4 linked regions of the Homo sapiens genome follow. The protein of the gene in region 4 purifies or fractionates together with the protein of the main gene of each other region. This does not show direct contact. Each region holds a gene or a part of one and is shown on either strand. Other genes may lie near its edges. The genes, in order: IARS1, GARS1, CCT8 and LARS1.

What was found.
Region 1: the proteins of LARS1 (region 4) and IARS1 purify together in Homo sapiens (affinity purification with mass spectrometry; 8 studies listed by BioGRID and IntAct, with this or other methods). This does not show direct contact.
Region 2: the proteins of LARS1 (region 4) and GARS1 purify together in Homo sapiens (affinity purification with mass spectrometry; 2 studies listed by BioGRID, with this or other methods). This does not show direct contact.
Region 3: the proteins of LARS1 (region 4) and CCT8 purify together in Homo sapiens (affinity purification with mass spectrometry; 2 studies listed by BioGRID, with this or other methods). This does not show direct contact.

The regions. Positions count from the first base shown.
Region 1 is NC_000009.12:92,209,676-92,213,703, forward strand, and holds the end of IARS1 (isoleucine--tRNA ligase, cytoplasmic), read right to left. Parts: intron 1,215-4,028; coding exon 1,132-1,214; 3' UTR 532-1,131; downstream 1-531. UniProt on the Homo sapiens protein: Catalyzes the specific attachment of an amino acid to its cognate tRNA in a 2 step reaction: the amino acid (AA) is first activated by ATP to form AA-AMP and then transferred to the acceptor end of the tRNA.
Region 2 is NC_000007.14:30,597,850-30,604,886, reverse strand, and holds part of GARS1 (glycine--tRNA ligase isoform 1 precursor), read right to left. Parts: intron 6,092-7,037; coding exon 5,990-6,091; intron 4,941-5,989; coding exon 4,838-4,940; intron 3,829-4,837; coding exon 3,687-3,828; intron 1,854-3,686; coding exon 1,765-1,853; intron 1,392-1,764; coding exon 1,315-1,391; intron 1-1,314. UniProt on the Homo sapiens protein: Catalyzes the ATP-dependent ligation of glycine to the 3'-end of its cognate tRNA, via the formation of an aminoacyl-adenylate intermediate (Gly-AMP).
Region 3 is NC_000021.9:29,056,636-29,063,672, forward strand, and holds part of CCT8 (T-complex protein 1 subunit theta), read right to left. Parts: intron 6,896-7,037; coding exon 6,717-6,895; intron 5,922-6,716; coding exon 5,855-5,921; intron 5,781-5,854; coding exon 5,693-5,780; intron 5,609-5,692; coding exon 5,493-5,608; intron 4,933-5,492; coding exon 4,861-4,932; intron 4,783-4,860; coding exon 4,618-4,782; intron 4,026-4,617; coding exon 3,906-4,025; intron 1-3,905. UniProt on the Homo sapiens protein: Component of the chaperonin-containing T-complex (TRiC), a molecular chaperone complex that assists the folding of actin, tubulin and other proteins upon ATP hydrolysis.
Region 4 is NC_000005.10:146,123,614-146,130,650, forward strand, and holds part of LARS1 (leucine--tRNA ligase, cytoplasmic), read right to left. Parts: intron 6,546-7,037; coding exon 6,405-6,545; intron 5,506-6,404; coding exon 5,365-5,505; intron 5,170-5,364; coding exon 5,059-5,169; intron 2,933-5,058; coding exon 2,822-2,932; intron 474-2,821; coding exon 369-473; intron 1-368. UniProt on the Homo sapiens protein: Aminoacyl-tRNA synthetase that catalyzes the specific attachment of leucine to its cognate tRNA (tRNA(Leu)).

The sequences.
Region 1 (4,028 bases), on a different chromosome or scaffold from region 4:
GCTTTCCAATTCCCCAAGTTCTGGTTGTTTCCTCTATTTTCTCCAACTTGTGGGTTTTTGTGTGAATGCATCTGTTGTAGTAGCCATAGGGATGTATCATTCAGATCTCCCTTCAAAAGAATCTGACATGAGGAGTGTAGTTGGTACTTTCAGATCCATCAAGGCATTTGTGCGAAGGCCACGCTCCCCTTGGTCTCCTCCCAGAAACTGACTTGAGGAAGTCAGAGAAACAAAGCCAGGCTATTTCTGCCCAATTCTGAACTCTACTAAAAGGAATCCTTGCTTGGGAACTCTCCATTGGCCTGACCAAGACTTCATCTTAGAGTTGCACTGCAGTCTAAGTTTTTGCTAATCAATCTTCATTTTCTCTTTTTACAGGTGTCAGACCCACACTGCAGTCTGAAGGCTCTCTCGACCTACGCTTGCTCCATCTCCCGTTTATCCTCCATTTATGTTTCCTCTAATAAATTCTTGCACATCTAACTTTGTCATGTCATCTGCTTCTCTGAGGACTCAAATTATCACCTGGGATTTTGGAAAGAAGTTTTATTAGATGTCTAGTCCACTGTCTTAATAAGAAACCACCATGAAGTTTTTATGTTCTTCAAAGTTTACACATTTCAAGTTTCATTTATCTATGGGAGAATGAATTACTTTCAACACATTTATATCTGAGTTTGTTTATTGTTCTGATTTACTGAAACTTAAAATATTCCATCAAATTATCCAGGAAAATCCAGGTGGCAGAAATATATAATATGTCCATTTCATCAAGAGGTCTCAAATAAATTTTAAAAGGCCAGAAAATGATATATATACTATGCCATTTAAATCACTTCTATCTTCTGTACTTAAGAACTCAAGTATAGAAATAAACTGTGGGCTGAAGTAACATTGTAACCTGCTCCCAACATGACTGCATAGGTGTCTAAGGTTAAGTGTGAAGATTACTGTGAGGTCTCAAGTTACTTGACTAATCAATCCCATTTGAATTTCAATCCAAGCAGCATATTTTACACACACCTGAAGGAAATATCTTCAGTGTGTTCATGTGTGTGTCTATGTGCATGTATGTGTAGGGGATAGGTGTAATTAGGGAAGGGCTGACCGAACAACATTGATAAGTACATGCTAGAAGTCTGCTGTTGTTGGTAACACAGAAACATACACAGTCTTCATATTCAAAGTCTTCACGGGGATGTCTTCTGTAATTTCTAGAATGGAAAGAAAAAGTTGAAAAAAAATCAGTATTTTACCTATTGGGGGTGAATATTTAAAAAAATGTTAACTGCTTGTGTAGTAAGGAATTTGGCCTTATCCTAAGAGTTCTGCCTTTTGTCCCAGCTCCTGAGGTGAACCTCTAAATCCTTGGAATTTCCTGGTAGGAATCTTTGTTTCTCATGGTGGGTATGTTCACCAAACCTGACAGTTGTTGCTAATGAGACAATTCAGGGTAGTGCTGGCCAGGACAGAAAGACCAAGTATATGATTTAGGATGGGGACTTTGGGTCACATGGTATATCAGTTGAGAAAGACAGCAATCATGCCTACAGAATGAAACCTCAACAGAAACTGGACACCAAGGCTCGAGTGAGCTTCCCTGGTTGGTAATATAGTCTCTGTGTTGTCAGATGTAAGGGATGAGAGGAAGAAACATTATCCATGACTCCAGGGTCTCTCTCTCTCTCTCACTCTCGCTGGTTCTAACGTGTATCCTTTCCCTACCCTAATTCAAACCATGAGTGTAATACCTTTTAGTGAGTCTGAGTCCTCCTAGCAGGTTACTGAACCTGAGGGTGGTTTAGGAAAATCCCTGGAACTTGCAGTTGGTGCCAGCAGTGATGGGGGTCTTGTGTGGATCTTTCCCTGAGTAGAATCCTCACTCCTTGCAGGTGGAGTTAGATATCGGGCAGACTCCTGGAGCCTTCTGGAGGACTATGCCATCACTTCACAGTTTGGCTAACTCTGGGTACTGCCAAGATGGTTATTTTTCCTCATACACAGATACTTCCTATGTCTACAAAAAAAGCCTAGAGGCTGTGCCAACTCAGTATCCCAGATATGTGGTTTCAAAATATGATTCTCTATAATTTGAAGAACAGCTATTTTCTACGTCTGGAGAAGTAAAAGTACATAATAAGCCTAGGACATGTTGCTACGTGAGAAAGCAAGAATTTACCAAAGACAAAGGATCATGTTAAAGAATACAGGATCCAATATGGCCAATGACGAAAACTCTGAGCATCCAAAAATATAACCCAAATGCAATTGATTGAAATATACTGAATATACAACTCAAAAACAAAAAAAAAGAAAATTTAAAGTTATCTGCCTACTGTGGAGCATTTTGCTTCTAGTCAGATCTGAATTTAAAGCAAACAGATGAGCTTCCTTTAAAAATAGCTCTTGTCCTACCTAGCAGCAATCCTAGATGTGAGAATACTCTCAAAGCTACTTCCTTAATAGATAATTACAGGACCTGGAGATGATGTTTAGAGTTTAGTGGAGCAAGCAAGAAGACATCTAAGGGTTTCTAAAATGGTCAACATTTTGTGGCTCTTCTAATTTACCAAGTTATTGATACTTTATGAAAGACAATTCTGAGAGAAAAGGCATAATGAAAACGAAGCTATAGATACTAGATTGGAAAGATACTGAATTAGAAAAAGTTCCAACTTTGTGGTAATCTTAGATAAATCACTAAACATTTAAAAGTTCTCACCCACTAAACTTTTGCCTAACTAACGTCACAGAGTAAAGAGAATACAGAAAGGCAGCACAGGTTAAGAATGGTTCTGTGAATTGCAGGTAGTATTATAAATACATAATTCATACAGACATGGTTCTACCCCTGACCAGGTTCAATCATGCCACTGCATTTGCTTGCAAGAACAAGTGAGAGATAAATGTCATCTTCAGCTCCACTGCACAACAGTACTTGGTGACCAAAGGATTTGAGGGACAAGAAGAGTTAAGAATTATCTCTAAAGTTTTATATAAGCTTATCAAAATAGAAAGCTACATTATTAGATGATCTTTACTACCATACCACAATGAAAGAGCCAAGTGTGTTCGAGGGAGAGTGAAAAAAGCCTTTGATAGAGTGAAAGACTCATGGACAGAATTAGCAAGACAGGGAAGGCCCAGAGCAGGAAGGATCTTGTGTGGAAGGGAAGATTCTGAGGCATAAGAGAATAAGGAGCTTTGGGGGCTCTAAGCAAGGGAACAAAATCAAGGCAGGAATGTTCATGAAGATAGCTCTGGTGAAGAGTACAGACTGCAGACTGGTGACTTAGATGGATGATGAGGCCCAATGATGAGATGAGAGGGAAAACGACAAAGGAGAGTCACTGAAAATAAACCCAGGGAGGGAAGGAGGAACCCAAGAAGAAATAGAGCTTTAGTATTTAACATCATGACAGAAAATTTAAAAGTACGATATGCAACTAAATTTAAAAAAAAAAGCTGCACAGGAAGAAAACGGGAGAATTACACAGAGGCCAAAAATAATGACTCCCATGGGGTCTGGTGGCTTAATGCTTTTGGCACTAAAGAGCTAGGAAAGCAGGGAAAGAAAAGCCTCCGGTATATACAAACCGGGAAGTCCAACAAATCTCTGCTGAAGAAACTGGAACTTCAAATAAGAAACCCATAGCAAAAGGGTTAATTTGAGTAAGTTCCTTCACCACAAGAGAAAAAGTGAAGAGAATGTAATCGGTTAATAATGGCCTTCCAAAGATATGCCCAGGTTCTAAATTCCCAGGAGCTGTGAATGTTCACTTTATTTGGAAAAAGAGGAAACAGAAGAGAAGGAGGCAATGTGACCACGGAGTCAGAGACTGAAGTGATGTGGCCACAAGTCAAGGGATGCCTGGCGCCACCATAAGCTAGAAGAAGTATATAAGGAATTCTCCCACAGAGCCTTCAGAGAGACTGTGGCCTTTCTGACACCCTAATTTCAGTGTCTGGCCTCCAGAGCTGTGAGATGACTTGAGCCATCCCATTTGTGGAAATTTGTTGCAGCAGCC
Region 2 (7,037 bases), on a different chromosome or scaffold from region 4:
TAAGATCAAAAACATATACACAAAACCTCAGTAAATCTAAAATTCTGAATGGAAAATTTTAGGGATACTTAGAGGCATTTTCCATTTTTTCTAATAAAGGGCATGCCTTTGGATAAGAAAATGAGATGAACGTGTGGCTTCAACAGTATCAAAATGTAAGAAATAATTTTCTAAACCATGAGTAATTACTAAAACAATGAGCTTCAAGCAAGGGATAAAATTACACTCCACAAGTATCAAAATAAATCAGCAGATGATTCAACAGCCAAATTAAGAAAGTTTTCAATGTAAATGAAGAAGGAGAAATTATTTTAGCTATGTTGGAAAGTTAACTATCACAGAGAAAAAAAGCATGCTAAAAAAAAAATTAGGACAACAGTGGAAAAGTATCCAGTAATTCCCATGAAAAACAACATATTAGGGAGTTCTATATTCAGGCAGAGAGAGAGAGAGAGATCGGTGTAAAGAAAATAGGTATAATCACAGTATTGGTTTTTTGTTTTTTGCCCAAGGAAGTAAATAAAATTTAAGAGGTGAGCCTCAGTAGACCTCATGACTAAACATGGTGTTGGAGAAATGTACTTTGCCTAAACGGAATAGCCAACAGATGAGGTGAGACACCAGCAACATATATACATGAGCACATGCATCTTCCCAGGGAGACGTGCAGTTTTGATCACATTCTTAGGGTGGTCTGTGACCCAACAAAAGGATAAGAACTACTTCTAATATAGAAAGTATTCCTGCAATTGGTAAAAGGTCAGAATAAATTATCTCTGTGGTCTCTTTTTTGTCTTCTCTAAAATTTGTCAGCTTAAATATTATACAAATTATAAAACTTTAGGCCTATAGGCAAACTGAGAAAAGCAAGGACAGAAAAGTCAGGACCTGCTCATGAGGTTCTAAGAATAATAGCATGAAATCAGGGTCCAAGCAGAGGCAGATCAAGTAGCCAGTGAGAAAGTGCTCATCAAGTTATCTGCCCCGAAGTCTCCACACCAGTGCTGAACACTACCCATCATCAGTCACTCCTGTGGTTTTAGCTATTAAATCCAGAAAAGTAGTTTCCAAGGTCAGACAAATTGAATGCCTATTAACACGGACTTGTTAGTTTGGGCTGAAATAAAGGGTTAGTCACAAAAGAGAGAAGAAAATAAAAATGCAAAAAAAGAGACGCTATACAGGACAGAATTAACCTCTGCTTCATTACAATGTGGCCAGGGTCAGCATAATGGGAAATGCAACAGTCATTAAACACTGAAAGAAGGACAGCGACCACCTAGGTTACTCTGATAACATCTCTAGAGTACTCACCTGGGCCAAAACACTTTCCATTTCTGATTTCTTTTCGACAGAACACTTCTTATCAGACATCAATTTCTGTAAATGAGCTGTAAGAACAGTGTTGACATATATCAATCAATGGGAAAAAGGACAATGCACTTTTCAGTTTCAATGCTAGACAATTAAAAAGTAAATCCAAGCATAAAGTTCTTAATTTACATGAATCCCACAGTTGATTTTACAACAGCAGTCATGGTATTGTCTTGATTCATTTGCTAATTAGAAAAATTATCTGTATATAACTAATTATCTACATATAACTTTTTTAAAAAATAAAGGACTTGATCTATATACTTAAGATCTGTGCACTTTGCTCTTTGAATGTTATGCCTCAATAAAAAATTTAATGAAAGACATCTGAGAGAAAGTTTAAACCTTTTATTTTGATCAATCCTACCTGAAGGAGATGAAGAACCTCACCTTTTAATAGATGGTCAGCACGAAAACATTCTCCATTTTTTACGTCTTTCACCATGAAGTCAGCAAATTTGTCTACATGGCCAGAGGTCCTAAATTAACAAATGCCAACCCAATTTGTCATTCTCATACAAATTACACATAGATATTACCTTATAAGATAATTCCCCATCAATATTTATATCCATCTCAAAGATGGAAGCTCCCATATCTATAGTAATGATGTATCCATGACAGTAATGGATGCCAGAGAAAATTCTTCCTCAAATCTATTTCTCACCCTCTCCCACATTCTTCCTTCCCATAAGAAAGAAGACATTAACTAGACAATAAAAAGACAATTCTTTTCTACAAGTTGTCATAAAGTCTGTACTATTCTTCAGGATCAATTAATCCATGCCTATGCCATTATTATTAGTGATCTAAGCAAAGGCCAAAATCACTGGGAATTTGACTAGTTAAGAATTCATGGCAGCTCAGTATAGACATTGAACCTTAAGGGAAGTGTTTTCTGCCACTGAAACCTGTACTGACATTGGTATTATCTCTACAAAGTTCCTATTGGTGGAACAAGTAGCTAAAATGATAGGTAGTCCTGATCTTATAGAGCCATCATTCAGAATTCCTCCTCTTCATTGGCTGAAATTATTAAGAGAACCTAACGGATGCCAATAGTAAAAATTAGCTCTCCACCAGTCAACCTTAAATGAATAATGACGAGTTACAAAATGGCAAGAATTCCTCTTTCAGGCCGGGCGCAGTGGCTCACGCCTGTAATCCCAGCACTTTGGGAGGCCGAGGCAGGCGGATCACGAGGTCAGGAGATCGAGACCATGGTGAAACCCCGTCTCTACTAAAAATACAAAAAAATTAGCCAGGCACGGTGGCAGGTGCCTGTAGTCCCAGCTGCTCTGGAGGCTGAGGCAAGAGAATGGCGTGAACCCGAGAGGCGGAGCTTGCAGTGAGCAGAGATCGCCCCACTGCACTCCAGCCTGGGGGACAGAGCGAGACTCCATCTCAAAAAATAAATAAATAAATAAAAGAATTCCTTTCAGTTTCACATTCTGAAATTCTGCCCTACTTTGGGAGGCCGAGGCGGGCGGATCACGAGGTCAGGAGATCGAGACCACCCTGGCTAACATGGTGAAACCCCGTCTGTACTAAAAATACAAAAAAAAAATTAGCCAGACGTGGTGGTGGGTGCCTGTAGTCCCAGCTACTTGGGAGGCTGAGGCAGGAGAATGGCGTGAACCTGGGAGGCAGAGCTTGCAGTGAGCCGAGATCAAGCCACTGCATTCCAGCTTGGGCGACAGAGCAAGACTCCATCTCACACACACAAAAAAAGGAAATTCTGCCCTACTTTCAATAACGTTGGTAGGAATAATCTAAGTTTCTGCATTGAAACTTTAAAACAAATAGTATTTAACTGAAAATCTCTACAAGTATACCTTTGCTCAGAACTTGTATTAAGGAAATAATCAAGGATATACCCAAAAATCCATCTATCAAGATATTCGGTGCAGTCAAAAATGAGAAACACTTTAATGCTTTCAATATGGCACAAACTAACATATTATGGCACTTCCATAAAACAGAATACTATGCTATCATTAAAAATGCTTTAGATGAATAGTTAATGATATGAGTATATGTTCATCAATATTACATGAAAATAAGCAGTGTACTGCTAACACTGAAATACATAGGGACGTACAGAAAAAACAGGAAGGACAAACACAATCATCTTAACATAGCTATCTGTGAGCAGAAGGTATACATTTCTTTGCTTTTCCATATTTTTCAGATTTTCTACATGAAATGAGTAGTTCTTTATAATCAGGAAGTTATTTAGATAAGTATATTAAATAATTTAATAAGTTATTTTATTTAAAGTAGGATACCCCCACTCCAAAGTAAGATCTCACTTTAAAACTGGCTCAGGGGTGAGCATGGTGCAATCGATCTCCAGGATCTGTTCCTCTTGGATAAAGTGCTGCCTCCAGGTCTGAATAATATTGTTCTTCAAAGCACAGCCAACTGGCCCAAAGTCATACAGACCACTAACACCTATAGAATATGAGAGGAAAACACATACTTTACCTTGTTACTCTGAACAAATGAAGGCAAGGAGACATGAGAAACTGATACCTATACTCCCTAAAAGTGTATTCAAGTCAACAATGCAAATCCCTCAATACTGAAGAACCTTACTTTCAGCTAGCTGATGGAAGTAAAATAAAAAAGCTCTTACGCCATTTACTAATTCTATATTTGTAATTTCAAGTAGGACTAGCCCAAAATCTACAACAAAAGTTCCCCCTTAGAGAACAGAATGAAAAAGCAGATTACAGTTTTCTGCCGTAAAAATTACAAAATAATTTCTCACCACATCTGATAACAATGATCTATAATTTTAGCATCCAATTCTCTAATTTTTTCCTGGGTATTTGAGGCACTATTTAACCTCAAAAGGGTAAACATTTACAGATCCACTTAGCCAAACTCAAGTCAACTTTCAGTGGCAAAGTACTATATGTCTAATGTTGTTGTAATAATCCGTTGACTATGAAAAATATAGTTTTACATTTCATCAGTGAATTGTATTTGCCTATATACCTTCATATGGCATTCACAGTGATTTATCTACATCCCTGGGAAGAATGTTTTCTCCTGGCAGATGACCATAAAGAATAATCTAAGGACTGTTTTATCACTGCCCCTGTGTGAAGGGGCATAGTATAGTTAGCCAGTACTACAATGGCCCTCTGTTACTCTTCAGTCTCCATTGCATTTTAAAAAGAGTACATGAGTACACAGACACATCAAATACATACATGGGCCTCCAACAATTCCCTACATCCTAATCAAAAAAAGTGCTGTCCAGGAATAAATGCAGTGGAGAAAAATAACAGGTATCACACCAAATGGTGACTCCAAGCAAACAAAAGCAAAACATCCATCCTCTGCTTTGTGGCCTGATACAAGTGGATACCAACAGGCAAGCCATGTTCTTGATTTAAGTATAATATTAGAGCCACTAACAACACAATAGTTCTTTTTGTCATTAATCCCTTACCTCCATAAATAGCAAAAGCTTGATCATAGAAAAACCTCCTCTTCAGGGTATCTTCCATTTTTGCTCGGTCTACAATATCATCTTTGGGCTGTAACGCCAGCTCCTGTTAGAGATTAAATAAAAAGTGAGTGAGTGGAGGGGTGGGTGGGAATCTGAACTTATATATCTGAATTTAGTTTATTCCTCACCAGAATTAAATATAAAATTTATCAAACAGACAAGATTTTGATAGGTTAAAAACAATAGAAGCCATAGGTCTTTTTTTCCCTTTGAGTAATATAAAAGATATCTTTACTTAATCATTTAGGAAAATATATGATCATTTCCAAGATTACAAGACTAAGCTTGACCAGGTGCGGTGGCTCACACCTGTAATCCCAGTACTTTGGGAGGCCGAAGTGGGTGGATCACCTGAGGTCAGGAGTTCAAGCCCAGCCTGGCCAACATGGCAAAACACTGTCTCTACTAAAAATACAAAAATTAGCTGGGCTTGGTGGTGGGCACCTGTAATCCCAGCTACTTGGGAGGCTGAGGCAGGAGAATCACTTGAACCCGGGAGGCAGAGGTTGCAGTGAGCTGAGATCGCACCATTGCACTCCAGCCTGGGCAACAGGGCGAGACTCCATCTCAAAAAAAAAACAAGACTAAGTTTACTTTGATGTAGATACTGATAAGCAATATAAAGCAATATTTGAATTGTCAGTGGATTGCTATAGCAAAATGGTTACTTTAAAACCCCAAAACAACTTAAGTTTGGTGATGGGAGATCTATTGTTTGAAAGGTCTGGGAGCAGGTATCAAATAAACAGACCTTTTCCTTAAAACAAACAAACAAACAAAAATCATTATTTTCAGGCATAAGAGAAGTCGTAAAGAAGAGCACAATCCTTTCCATGGAAATTCATATAGCGTATTGAGTCCAGCATTTGCAGGGTCAGGAAGGCTTTATTAAAAAGTTGACATTTTGAGTTGCATTTTGAAAGGATGAGGAGTCTACCAGGTAGAGGGAAAGGAGAAGGCGGCATTATGGATAAACAGATAAACCAAATGATACTTGTTCAGAAACTTTTCTAGGTCTCTCCCATCCAAAGAAATTAAAGATGAACAATCCTATACCTACTTATGTTCCTATTTTAGCATCCCAGGACTCACCTTTGCTTCCAGAACCCTCTTGCGGGCTTTGAGCTCAGCCACTGCTTTGTCTACGTCTACTTGGGGTGCTTTATCTTCTTTGAGTTTTCGCACAAGATCTCCCTAGCCAAGAAAGAGAATTTATATTCAGGATTGGTTTCAGAAGTTAAGAAATGTTAGGAATGTGTTTTTAAGCGTGCCTTTTAAAAAGTCTATGTAAGAATGATGCAATTCAGGCCAAGCGTGGTGGCTCACGCCTGTAATACCAGCACTTTGAAAGGCCCTCCTCACCATCTGAGATCAGGAGTTTCAGACCATCCTGGCCAACATGGTGATACACCATCGCTACTGAAAATACAAAAATTAGCCGGCCGTGGTGGTGGGCACCTGTAATCCCAGCCACTTGGGAGGCTGAGGCAGGAGAATCACTTGAACCCGGAAGGCGGAGGTTGCACTGAGCTAAGATCATGCTACTACACTCCAGCCTGGGTGACAAAGTGAGACTCCGTCTCAAAATGAAAAAAAAAAAAAAAAAAAAAAAGAATGATGCAATTCAAATGTTTATTATGTGAGTGATCATTATGAATCAAGGTCTCTGCCCTCTTCATTTAATAATCTAGAAGAACACACGGGCAAGTTAACAAATAACTGCTCACATGGTGAATTTTTTCCTTTGGGTATAGAGGGGTGAAAAAGGAGGAGACAAAAGCATTGATTAAAAAGTAGGAAAGAGCAAGATTTGTACTGAGAACACAGAAGAACCAATAAATTGACCACCTTCTTAAATCTCTCTCCTCTCGCTTACAAAAAAAAATAAAAACATTATTCAGTTTTCCTCCCACTTCTCTGACCATTCTTCTCAGTCACTGCTGGCTCATCTTCCTTTGCCTTTCTCTTTACAGTTGGAATTTTTTCCTTGCTAATATTTCTGAATTATTTTATTAACTTCCAACAACTTATACTAATTCCATATTTATAGTAATATGGTGGAATAGGTCATCTGAGTAAACAAACAAAATATTACCTATATAGGATGAAAAACTTTCAGCTGAGTAATTAAAGTTGTTAA
Region 3 (7,037 bases), on a different chromosome or scaffold from region 4:
GATTAAGCAGTCTTCTTGGTATAATTATGTACTGCATATAAAACACTACAGCACAGAGTTTGCTAGCTCCCTTGTTAGAAATTCAATTGTAAACTTTCAGCGCATGAGAAAGTTTACTGCTTTTATGGATAACCGCAATAAAATCCACAGAGATTAGTGAACATTCCAAGACATGCACTTCAATAACTCAAAAAGCTGAAAGTGAAAATATGTGCATGCATCACTGGTGTAAGTCGGTCAGTTTGGCACCTGATTTGCTATTTATATATGAGATGTGTCTTGCCAACCATCTCTGTCCCAATTTCCTTGTGGTTTAGGAGCTTTAGGCCCACCTGCCAGCTTTGCCATTATAATCTAAAGTAGTTGATACATAAGTATATACAAAGTTTAACACTGAAATTTTCTAAAACCTGTAAATGAGAATCATTCAAGCAGCCAGGAATTTTCATAAACAAAAATCTAAGTTCCCAACTTAAAAAAAAAAGCGCCACAAACCTCACCTTACTTTATCTAAAATAAATAGGTTTTAGCTTTTTTTTTTTTTTTCTTTTTGAGACGGAGTCTTGCTCTGTTGCCCAGGCTAGAGAGTGCAGTGGCGCGATCTTGGCTCAATGCAACCTCTGCCTCCTGGGTTCAAGCAATTCTCCTGCCTCAGCCTCCTGAGTAACTGGGATTACAGGTGCCCATCACCATGCCCGGCTAAGTTTTTACTTTTAGTAGAGACGGGGTTTCACCACGTTGGCCAGGCTGGTCTCAAACTCCTGCATGATCCACCCGCCTCAGCCTCCCAAAGTGTTGGGATTATAGGTGTGAGCCACTGCGCTCGGCTGGAAAACATCTTAATTACCATCTGCAAACCTGAACTGGGCAGTGGCTCATGCCTGTAATCCTAGCACTTTGGGAGGCCAAGGTTTGAGGCCAGGAGTTTGAGACCAGCCTGGGCAACAAAGTGAGACCTAGTCTACAAAAACTAAAAATATATATATATATAAAATATATATATAACATTTGATAATATATATATGATATATGTATCATATATACGATACATATATCATACATATATCATATATAATATATATCATACATATATGTATGATATATATATCATGTATATGTATGATATGAGATATATATGATATATATGAGATATGTATGATATATACATATGTATGATATATACATATGATATGTGTGATATATACATATCAGATATATATGATATATATCTCAGCCAACCATGACAGCACCTGCCTACAGTCCCAGCTATTCGGGATGTTAAGGCAGAAGAATCACTGGAACTCAGGATTTTGAGGCTGTGGTGAGCTGATTATGATTGTGCCACTGTCCTCCAGCCTGGGTGATAGAGTAAGACCTTATCACAACAACAACAAAAAAGATACCTAAACCTGAAATTCTCAGAATAACATGTTACCAATTGAGAGTAATTTCAGACTGAATTAAAGGCATTAAGCATAATTTTAGAACCTAAGTGCACATTGATTTTAAAAAGTAACTAAAAGCTGGGTGTGGTGGCTCATGCCTGTAATCCCAGCACTTTGGGAGGCCAAGGCGGACAGATCACGAGGTCAAGAGATCGAGACCATCCTGGCCAACATGGTGAAACCCCGTCTCTACTAAAAATACAAAAAAAAATTAGGTGGGCATGGTGGCATGCGCCTGTAGTCCCAGCTACTCGGGAGGCTGATGCAGCAGAATTGCTTGAACCTGGGAGGTGGCGGTTGCAGTAAGCTGAGATCACACCACTGCACTCCAGCCTGGTGACAGAGCAAGACTCCATCTCAAAGAAAAAAAAGAAACAAACACTAAAACAAGTAGTTCCCAAACTTTAGTGGGCACCATAATCAAAAGTGCTCATTAAAACAGACTGCTAGGCCTCTTCCAGCATTTCTGATATTGGTGGGTCTGGAGTGACATCTGAGAATCTGTATTTCTTCTTTTTTTTTTTTTTTTGAGATGGAGTCTTGCTCTGTCGCCCAGGCTGGAGTACAGTGGTGCCATCTCTACTCACTGCAGGCTCCACCTCCCAGGTTCATGCCATGCTCCTGCCTCAGCCTCCCGAGTAGCTGGGACTACAGGCATCTGCCACCACGCCCAGCTAATTTTTTGTTTTTTTTAGTAGAGACGGGATTTCACCATGTTAGCCAGGATGGTCTCAACCTCCTGACCTCGTGATCCTCCTGCCTTGGCCTCCCAAAGTGCTGGGATTACAGGCGTGAGCCACCGCGCCTGGCCTCCAAGAATCTGTATTTCTTATTTATTTTTAGTTTTTTAAAAGATGGAGTGTCACTCTGTCAACCAGGCTGGAGTGCCATGATGTGATCACAGCTCACTGCAGCCTTCAACTCCTGGGCTCAAGTGATCCTCCCACCTCAGCCTCCTGCGTAGCTGGGACTACAGGTGTGAGCCACCATACCTGGCTGAGAACTGTCATTCTAACAAGTTCTCAGGTGATGTTGATACTATTTTGGGACCATACTTTGAGAACTAGTGAAATAGACATTCCAACAAAGATTAATCCAGTCCGTACTACACTATCCAATGCTTAAAGCTTGATGTGCAATTCCTTTTCTAGAATATATACTATACAAATTTAGGTTCATTATACTATACACTATATACACAAACTGGTTAATACAGTTGGATGGGTTCTTTAGATACATACTTCACATAGAGTGCAAAGACTGGGGGAACAGATCAACCAACAACTTCCCCTACCATAAGATAAAGCAGACTTCCTAGTTTAAAGCCAAAATTCAAACTGCCTTTGTGACCAAGGGTGGTGGTTATTGTCTTGCTTGAATAATTGACATTCAAAGTTCCTAACACAGTTGGAATTTCTGCGTTCCTTATGCTGCAGTCTACTTAGCTTCTTCCGTCCCTGCTATTTTTGGTTTCCCCTTTTATTCTTAGCCACATTCTAATTTCTAGAATAAGTATTTTCTTAGGTTTCTATTTAAGAACTCAAACATATTCTTCCATTGAAAATCACCTAATAAGCTGACAGAGAAACCCGTTAATCTGGTACATAAACATCTAGTTTCTGCTTATTTTCAATGACTTGAAACTAAATATCCAGTTCCATTTTTGGTCATCTCTTGCTATCATAGTTCTTCCAATAAATTTGTTATAATTACCACCAACTGGTCCTTACTGTACTTAAAAGCTGAAATGTCTTTCCACTGATTTCTACTTAGGACTTACTCCACCTTTAATATGACATATGACTTTTACCTAATGGATGTATACTGTCCCTCTAGCAAATTAAAATTTTCTATTAAGTACTTATAAATAGTCATTGCTTATTAATTACTTCTAGAATTTTGTGGGGAAATGTATTTAATTAAGTTTGCCAGAAAATACCTTTTGGAAAAATAATTATGATTTCAGGTTTACTTCTATATATAGAACAGTCTACCACAATTCTTCAAAAAAAAAAAAAAAAGGGTAGAAATATGATTTTAAACACCTTTAACATCTTTTAGTATCTCAAGCTGTAATTTGTCATAGCAGAAAAAATTTTCAATGCCCAGTCCTCTTATCTGCAGACAGCTAGAGACTCCATTTTCCTTCAAGCTGGTGGTCTGCAATGTCTGCTTGAGAGCTTTATGGTCCTTCCAAATTCCATGTTAGTATTATATATTAAATTTACTCTCTAAATTATTTGTACAAATGGGTTCTAAGGCTAAAAGGTTTGAAAGTTATATATTCAATACAATTTATAATAGAAGAAAAAAATTGGAGGGGGGCACATAGTATCTCTAATAGGTGAGGACTAAGAATCCTTTGAATTAGAACTATGCTATGTTCTAGTTCTGGGAAAATATACTATTAAACAGTATGCAAATGAGTATTTTTAAAGATCAAAATTTCACTTTGCTCACCTGATCCACTCTAAGTACAGTGACTGCAGCATTAGTAGCGAGTTTGATAGCCCAATATTTTCCCAGGTAAGTATCTAGAATACCAGCTTCCAGCATGTCCTTTACAGCAGGGACTTCAGCCTGTCAAACACAATTTTCATCCTTTCATTTAAAATCCTTTTATGTGAAAATGTTTACACCCACAAAAAGCCTCACATAGCTCCTTAAATAGTACTGGAAAGTAACCAAGCACAGTCCTACCTTATAGAGTCATCCTTTAGTATGTGAGGATTGGTTCTAGCACCTCCAAGGATGCCAAAATCTGTGGATGCTCAAATCCCTTACATAAAATGGCATGGTGTTTGGATATAATCTATGCACATCCTCTCATATACTTTAAATCGTCTCCAGATTAATTATATAACATAGTGTAAATAGTTGTTATAGTGTATTTTTAAATGTCTTTAGTTTTTCCAAATATTTTCAATCTGTGGTTGGTTGAATCAATGGATACAGAACTGGGCTGACTACACACTACAGAACAAAAGACTATCAATAAAACAGAAGGAAAATGAAACGTTCCTCCATCAGACAACCTATGTAAAAACTAAGAAAATAATCTGCTCCCAAATCAGAACACTGTTTCTCATTGATATTTCTTTTAAACTCATACTATTTTTAGGTTGTGCATTCCCCAAATAAAGCAATTTAAGTTCAGTGTTTTTTCAAATACCTCAATATCTAATCCAACGTTTTTATTTCCTTCTTGATGTACTGCATAAAGTTTAGAGATTACTTCATTGGCCTTAACTCCAGAGTTTTCTGCCAGTGCGCGGGGAATAGCTTCAAATGCCTCAGCAAACTTCTTAATAGCATACTGTTCAAGTCCAGGACATGTCTAAAACAAAAATGCGTTAATTACTGTCTTTTATTCAAGCAATGGAAAGAAAGTCAATTTATACAGAAAAAGCTGTACCTCTCCATATGATGTGATCTGTTTGGCTAATTCAATTTCTGTTGCTCCACCTCCGGGTACAAGACGTTTATCCTGTATGTAGCGCCCCCACCAAAAAAAAAATGAACACAAAACAAATTCACTAAAAATCAGTTTGCAGTTTTCTAATCTTTTCACATTCCAGTACCCCACCAAACAGGAGTTTTTATCAGTCATTGTTACTCAAATACATATTACAAATTTGGTAAAAATGAGTGGGTGGGGCAAATTTTCTTAGTGCACAGTGTCTGGTGTATGAAAAGGACCAAAGTGAAGAATGGGAATAGTACCGTATCATTTTTGCATATCCACAGATATAGCACTAAGAACTGCTTTAGCAACTAACAGTACATTACAATGGAAAACAACGATAAACAATTTTTTTTAAAGCTCTGTTTTGCTGTTAACTCCTCTGTACAATCTTTTTTGGAAACTATCATATTCACTAACAATGGACACTTAAGTCTTAGGTAAAAACAAAAACAGGTGCTTCATTTCATATAAACCACTCATTCTGAAGTTCTCATGATGTGCAAGAGTCTGCAAACTGTACTTTTAAGACCATACAAATTACTCAGACCTTACAAACTACTAAGAATATTGCTGATACTGACCCTTGTAAGAACTTTGAAAGTATTAACACCATCGTCTACTGCCCTTTCTATGTCATCCATCAGATTGTCTGTAGAGCCTCGAAGTACTATGGTAGAAATGGCGCCATCTTCCTTTTCTATCAAAAAATTAAATATATTTGGTGATTAAATACAAGAAGCTAAAGCCCTACACTTAAACATGTTTTACCATTCCTACATACCATGCTTAAAAACCACCACCTGAGTATCTCCAACTTCTGAGAGGTAAACACTGTCACAGTGTCCCATTTCTTCAAGGACAGGAGGTGTCTGTAAGAAAGTGACTGTTGTAATAAAAATTCCATCTTGTTCAACTATCTTTTAGTGTTTTCCAAAATACATACCAATCTAGGAAGAGCTGTAGCACCAACAGTTTTACAAAGTCTTCGGAGATCCCATTTTGAGTTTAGCCTTTAAAAAACACAAAGACCTTAATAAAAGTTTTAATCAATTTCAGATAGCATATAAAGTTCAAATTAAAGAGGAACCTGTATACCAGCCCCCATGTCACATTCCTTTGACAATGGATTTTAACTCAGAACATGTCTGGATTGCAATGAACACTAAGGCCAGGAAGCTGATTCCTGACTCTCTGAGTGAGTCCAGCTGGCCAATAGTACCACATCTTAAGCCTGTGTTGTATGGCATTGTTCTAGAATTGGGAGAATGGAAGTCACTTTAGGATGTCAGTGGTTTATAGTTCTAAAACACCAGAGAAACCCTTACAAAACTCAACAGCATATAGAAAATTTTTGCTTTACTTTGTGCAATCAATGTTCTGTGAACAAGAGTGATTTATTTTGCACATTTTATTAGGTACTAGGGATGGTGGTAGGTAGAAATGGGTTAAGTTGTCTAGTGTGCACCATAAATGTGTTCATGGATTAAAAGGGATCTTCCTGACTCCATACTCTGATAGGCAATGCACCAAGCTTGTGTCTAGTCTCTTGGACAAGTTGTTCCTTTTGCCTGGAATGCTTTTCCCTCTTCAATTATCTGGTAATTGGTTCTTCAAGCTCTCAGCTTAAATTTATGTTTTCTCAGAGGTGTTTCCTGACCCCTCCCCAAACTAAATCCTTCTGCTATTTGACCTAGTACCTTTACTTTCCCTTTATTAACAGTCTTCATGGTCTATTTCGTTTAGTGTTTTCACCACCAAAAAACCATTTATGATATAGGTAAAAAAAAAAATCGGCTTTTTCTTACCTCACTAACATGATATTATATTTATTTGCATAATGAAGAGCCATGTCTGCCACTTTGCCACCTGTTACTACGACATTTGCACCAGTATCAGCAATAGCTTTGACTTGTGCATCCATGAGGTTTTCTTCTCCCTTACTAAAATTCATCAATTCTTCAGCAGTCTTTATCAACACTGTTCCCTGGCAAAACAAGTAAACATTCCCTTTAAAATCATTTCACTACGTTGGTGTTCAAAGTCATTAGATAATAGTTGACTGAAGAAATAAAGGTTTGGCAAAAAAATATGAAGATATATGTGCATATATTATGAAGCAGCAGAAT
Region 4 (7,037 bases):
TCAAAAGGGAGGGGGGAAAAAAGGCAACAATTCAGAGTACTCCATAACATGAGAGGCTTGGAAAGCATTTGAATATAAGGTCTCTTAAAAATAATTTGCAGTAGAATAGCCAGATATACAGTTTTTTAATGTATAATTGATTATATGTAAATTAAGAATTGATGAAATAAGATGACATATCACTTTTTTTCCTGCAACTTTTATACTCACCCATTTTTCTTCTCTCCAAAAATATTTTCGACTAATATATTTAACAAAGATACTAAACACAGAAGATGAAATTTATAAAAAGGTTTATTATAAAATAAAAGAGCTGGATTATGGTTTAACTACAGTTAACTGGTTATTACAATCCCTGGCCCTCTTACCTCAAGCGAATTAGTCAGATAGACTATATTCTCCATAAGCACAGCCTTTTCATCAAATTCTAATTGCAAATCCAGAATACGAGGCCCCATCTTCTCCAGATTTTCCTAATAGCCAAAATGGTATGGAAAAACAAAATCACAGTAAGAATATGTTGGAAAACATACTTCCTCCAAAGTAATCATTCTTCTCTCAACTGATAAAATCTTCAGATTTCAGGAGTTAAAGGAAAGGCCTTGGACTCATGATTTCCTTTACCTACATTTGCTTGTTAATGAAATTTACTAGCTCCAAATAATTATCTTTTAAAGTATTATAAGATTATGGCAGCACTGAAAAGATGGGAAGGCACAAGGTTTTCAGATTTATAAAATAAATACGGTTTTATGATTGTTTATTTAGACTGACTTAACATGCAAGCCCAAAGAATTCACTTTACAGGGAATCAGCCAAATGTGTGAAAATATCCCTTTAAGTTACCCAAAAAAAACAAAATTTTAATTTTCTGAGATACCACCTTCTTAAAGCTGTTTCAGAGAATAGTGAATTAATAATATCCAAACAAAAAATCCCCAAAGATATTTCTGCAAAGTTTAAAGAAAAAAAACTCATACTACATGAGTACTCAAACATGGCATGTAAAAAATAATTTCTTATTCTTAATTTTCTTGGGTAGTCAATATTTGCTGTGCAAAATAGAATCCTAGAGATCCAAGTACATATGCAGATATAACTACCTAGAACATGTTATACTTAATGAAAGTGACCTGATATTATTCCTGCTACTCACTGTTTTCGCTTACTATGCAAGTTCTATTTCTTTTTCTCATGGAAGTGCTAGAAAGTCATTTTCTTATTCCCAGATGTATTAATCCCTTCCAAAATTTGCAAAACCACTAATTTGCCTGGCAAATCACCAACATAATTTTAAAAATATATTACCACTCAAACGGTCTGATGCTGGTTCTTCAAATTTAAATGAGATCCTAAAGAAGCCAACTCTTGAATCTAATATCATTTTATACACACACACACACGCACACACACACTCTATATATATATACATATACACATAACTACTTTTCAAATAGGTTTCCCTGGATTCTTTTAAAACATGTCATCAAAATTAATTGCCTTTGCAACCATCAATGGAATATTTTGTTGGATCCACATGTTGACAGAGATTTGGCATTATGACCAATGACACTAGCCACTGGGGAACCAACGAACTATGAACATACCAGCACTTACATTACAACTTGATTAGTGTAGGTCAACACAGGATTCTAAATTACTTCTGAAACTTAAAATACCCTGAGGATCAAATAGTGACTTTGGTCTAAGAGAATTAAAAACCTTTTCCAAGAATACTAATCTATTATAATATTGAAGAAGTTAAGAGGTCTGGTCTCCATCAGGCATCTGCAGCCAAGAAGACACAAGAATTAAAGGACAGTACAAGAATAACTACAATATGCTTAGTAGGCTGGAAGATACTAATTTGTATTTTTAAACAACATTTACTGAGCCTACTTCTTGACTAGTGCTACTTAAGTGTGTTAGGTACACTATTTTATTTACTCCTCACAGCACTCCTAAAAAGTTTGGTTCTATAGTATCCTCATTTTATGGATGAAAAATCCTGTAGCCCAGAAAATTTAAGTGATTTGTCCAAGGTCTCAAAACTAAGGAGTGACTGATACACAGAATTTCAACCAAGATTTTTCTGGCCCCATAGCCTGCGATCTTAAGCAATATAAGCCTTCTTTCGGTTTCTTTTTGTCAAGAAATCCAGTAATACATCAGCGACGTATATGAAGAAAACTAAGGGTCTAACCCAATAATTCTCAATGGTAAGAAGTGGAAGGTGATTCTGCCCCCAGCGGACATTTGGCAATGTCTGGAGATATTTTTCATTGTCATAACTAGCAGGAAAGGTAGTTCTACTGGCTTCTAATGAGTAGAAGCCAGGGATGCCATTACATATCCTACAGTGCACAAGAAAGTGCCCCACAAGAACTATCTAGCCCAAAATACCAACAGAGCTATGCTGAGACACCCTGGTCTAACCACTATAACCAATGTTTACCCTGTTAAGCTATACCTATACAAATGTTGAATCCTGGTTCCAGGAATAGGGTCTAGGAAATGCAAGCCTCTATAAGCCTAATGTAAGCCAAAAGAGTTTGAAAGAAGGGAAGGTAGAATATGAAGGGAATAGTTCAGTGCAGCCATTCTAAACCAATTTTTCTCCCACAATAATATTTTTCACATACTCAGCAATTCCACAAGTAAACCCAAAATCTGATAGATCATTTCTCTCAGTCATTGATTGAAAAGTGCTATTTTAGCAGATTTCTGGCAGGAGACTATGTCCAAGGCTTTTCCCCATCCTTCTATTGTCCCATCTAACCATTGCTCATGTGGTCACAGCTGCATAAGGTCCACAGCTTACCTTAATCATGGCAACAAATGGCATGACTTTCTTCATGTATTTCTTCAGTTCTGGCATACTGCCTAGTTCACTAGCAATGACTTTGTTGTCAGGCAGTTTTCCGTTATTGGCCTAAGAAAAGGAAGGAGGGAGAGTAATGTAGAAAAAAAAGTCTCAAGAATAAGGCAGAACAGTAGATGTGACCAGGCATAGAATGGTGGCCTCTATCAATCCTTAGAGAACAGCAGAAAAGTGTCCAGCCCTAGCATCACGGGGAAGTGAAAGCTCAATGAACAATGCAGAAGGAACTCTCCTATTCTCTATAAATTAACAACACATACTTTTTAGTTTAGAAGAGAAAAAGAAGTGATTTGTGTTGAATATTTCTCCTGTTCAGAAACTAAATGGTCTCATAAAAACTTGTTTTCAAATTTCTAAAAGCATTTTATTAGTCATATTAAAATAAAAAATTACACAACTATCATACAAGTTTATATAATGTCTGCTTTTGGACACTTGGAAGAAACTGTTACCACAATTGTGAAAAGAATCCCTAGCTACTGACCTGTTAAAAACAGAATCATTTCTATCTACTCAAAAATAAATGTCCATATCATATATCACTGATGAGTACAATCCAAGTGTGCTTTAAATGAATCTAAATTCATTTCTTTCTACAAATATTAACGGTCCCCTCAATAGAGTGAGAAATAAAGCAACTGGTCTTTTCAAAGTTTTGGGCAACTTGTTTTCTCTTTATTGTAAAAGAAGGGTTGGGAATGAATCTAAATGAAAAGGAACATATAATACAATTTCAAATAATCTATTTTCAATTCTAACTTTTACTAAAGTACATGGGAAAAAAATATTCTACTTGTTAATATATTCCTCTGAAACACACGAAAAAGAAAAAGGGTGGGAAACACTCCTTTGCCTTATGTCACCAAAATGGTGCCACATTCAACATAAGAACACTCTTCGTGATTATAAATGAACATTCTTTTCATTCCTGTGGATGAAAACATACAAAAATCTAAAAGACAGCTGCTAATGCCAAAAGATACCACTGTTTTCAATTATCTAGCAAATGAATAGTAAGTAAAAAAACAACTTCAAAAAGAACAGAGGTGATGCATTTTTTAATACCTAAGACATTACATATTATATTTGGGTTCTTCCACTGCTTCCTTGAAATTGCTGGTATGAATATATAATCCACTGAGGTAGTTTCACTTTTGTGCCAACCAAAGTAGCTTTTATCTTTTATTTACCTTAATTCAAAATCTGCAAGCAGATTCTAAAGGCCACCTTCTATTTCTATCATATATACTCAAAGGTGGAAATAGTTCTCCACAAAAATAGACTCACAAGAAATACAAAAACATTTGCTCTTCTCTATCAAATTTTACATATGTAAAAGCAGCTTTTCTTAGCATTTCTTAATTAACTATGAAAAGTGTTGAGGCAAAATTCCAATAATGGTCTAGAATATCAAAGCTAAGAATTTTTCCTTTACGTTTCTTCTTTACATTTTGACCACAATCCGTATTTTGTCTCTCTTTTTAAAGTGCACCTTAGTGGTCTGCATCTAGCAATAACTGTTTTAATAACCTAAGCAAAAAAGCCAAAGTTCATAAACATACTTTGTTTCTACATTTTGAATGCAGAGGAAAAATACATTTTTTTCTTTCAGGAAAACTTAGATCTAAGTTATTGAGTTCCCTTTAAGTGGATTTATCATTACCTGGCACAGCCAAAAATGTCTTCAAGCTCTACATTTCTATAGGTAATTATCAAACCAAACAACATTTAAAGTACTCAAGAACAAAGCTTCACTTTTTTCCAAACAATAAACAAGGTTACGATTTGAAATAATTTAATGAATGAATATAATGAATGAATAAATTTAATGAATGACTCCCACTGCTCAAGTTACAACAAATTCCAAAGGCAAACTCTGTCCTTTTATTTCATCATTTCAACTACACATATGAAAACCCCCAATTCTTTTGATTACATTCAACTAGATCCAATGTATTTTTGTATAAATTTTTCAGAAATGAGAGGAAAACAGCAGCTTTTCCCTCAGCATCCATTTAAGAGCCACCAAGAATAACAAAAGGATGCTGTCTGCCTAGAGGGAATGAAACAAAGCTGCCTATCTTTCTTCTCCCAGACATTGCCAACATCCTAAAAACAAAAACAACATAGGGAGCATACAACACCATCAGGGGGGAAAAGTCTACTGAGAGCATCACCTCAAAGTGTTTACGTAGAACAGACAGGGTGGTATGTTGCCAAGGTGGATAGTTCTTTGCCACATAGATGGTGCAATGTGAGGGCTTCTGCAGGGGTTGTTTGTCAGTCTTCTAGACGGTAAAAGAAAGGAAAAACATTCAATAGCTTTTATATAAACCAAAAATGAGAAGAACCCTCCCCCAACATACACCACCACGGTCTTCACCATTAATGAAAATCTTTTTAACTTTCATTATTGTTAAATGTTATCTGATCAATAACTTTTAAGGAATAATCCTTTAAAAAAAAAAACAAAAAAACTTTACCTTCCCTTTAGCTGGCATCATATAGTTCTTGAGTCGTAGTCTAAGGTCATGTGTTACTTCCATAAGATACTGTGAGGAGTGTATTAAAACTTCATTAACAGGACCTGCCACAGGCCATGAAGCATTCATAATTGAGTCAGGCTTTTAAAAAAAGAAAAACAAAAAAACCTTCAGTGAGATTAGACAATATAACTATTTTACGGTTCTTGATTATAGTTTCATACCAAGGATACCATCTGTAATTGTGTGCTCAGAGTTCAAACTTGACTACACATAACACACTTGCACAGCCCCTGATCTAATGTTCCCTAGAATTCAAGCTGTGAAGTCTGACTCTACATTCTTAATTAGCATCCATTTGTACAAGCATATTAATACCCACACACATATGCTCACTTTCAAAGAAAATTATGTAATGCTAATTTGCCTAAATTTAATCATTATTATATAAATTATGCATACACTCAGTTTTTATCCTGCTAATACATCCAGTATTCAAGTACGGTTATTTGGTATATAGATCATGAGCACATTTCTGTATTGTTCATGCATTTAAAAATACAAAAGAGCCTAGCTAATATGGCTGGAAAGGAGTTATTAAACCAGCCAATCTATTTATCTGTAAGCCTGGGAGAAATAACTGAATTTATATTCATAGTAAGAATGCTACTATCCCTGAATATTAAGTCCTATATATGCCAGAAGTTTTATATAAAACAAGAATACTTACACAAATATACACAAATATACACCTATATCTTTGTTTTTAAGCAGCTCATAACAATTGTTTATATCTTTCTCAATATTTTCACCTTTTAAAAATATGTATGCACTGTTGTGTATATAAATAAGGGCACATATATCCATCTGAATAGGAGATAGCTCTGGTTTAACCCGTCATAATTATGATGCTGAATCCAGCATTACTCTTGAATTACTCACTTTCAGACTTTCTCTCTTAAGTAACAATATTAGCACAACACTTATTTAATGAAGCCAAAATCAAAACCACTCGAAACATTTTAAATGCATGAAGGTACCTTTCCCAGGAGTGTCCAGATGTGCTCACACAAATGTGGACAGAATGGAGCGAGGAGAAGTGTCTGAACTTCAATAAACCGGAACACAAGTTCTCTGTGCATCCCTTCCACAGCCAATTCACGGTACTTATCTTTTGCGGCCTATAAAATTTGAAATTATTTACCATTTCCCTCACCTTCTTTAAAATAAAAATAAAGGGAAAAATTGCAGTATCTTGGTTTTAACACATTTTTAAGTTTCTAGTCTTTTAAAAATCCATAACAAATTACTGTAAAGGTTTTACTTTAAGAATCTGCAAGTATTTATCTTTGTCCAAAGTATATGGCAGTTTTATACTAATAATTCTCAAAAAAAGAATTTTTTTACAGACAGTTTGTAACTGAGACATAAAAGTTGAACAACTTTAACTGTATATTAAGGGTGACTGCTCTTAGCAGCATATAGGATATTAAATATAAAAAAAGACTATAAATACAACACATTGCTATGCCCAGCCATTTATCCTTATTTAACCACAACTCTGAAAACCAAGTTATATAAAACTCAATGTGATATTTTACACAGCTCATTGCGTAAAGCTACATTTTTACTTTAAGCACTTTAAATGCCAAACTTGAGGAAATACTGACACC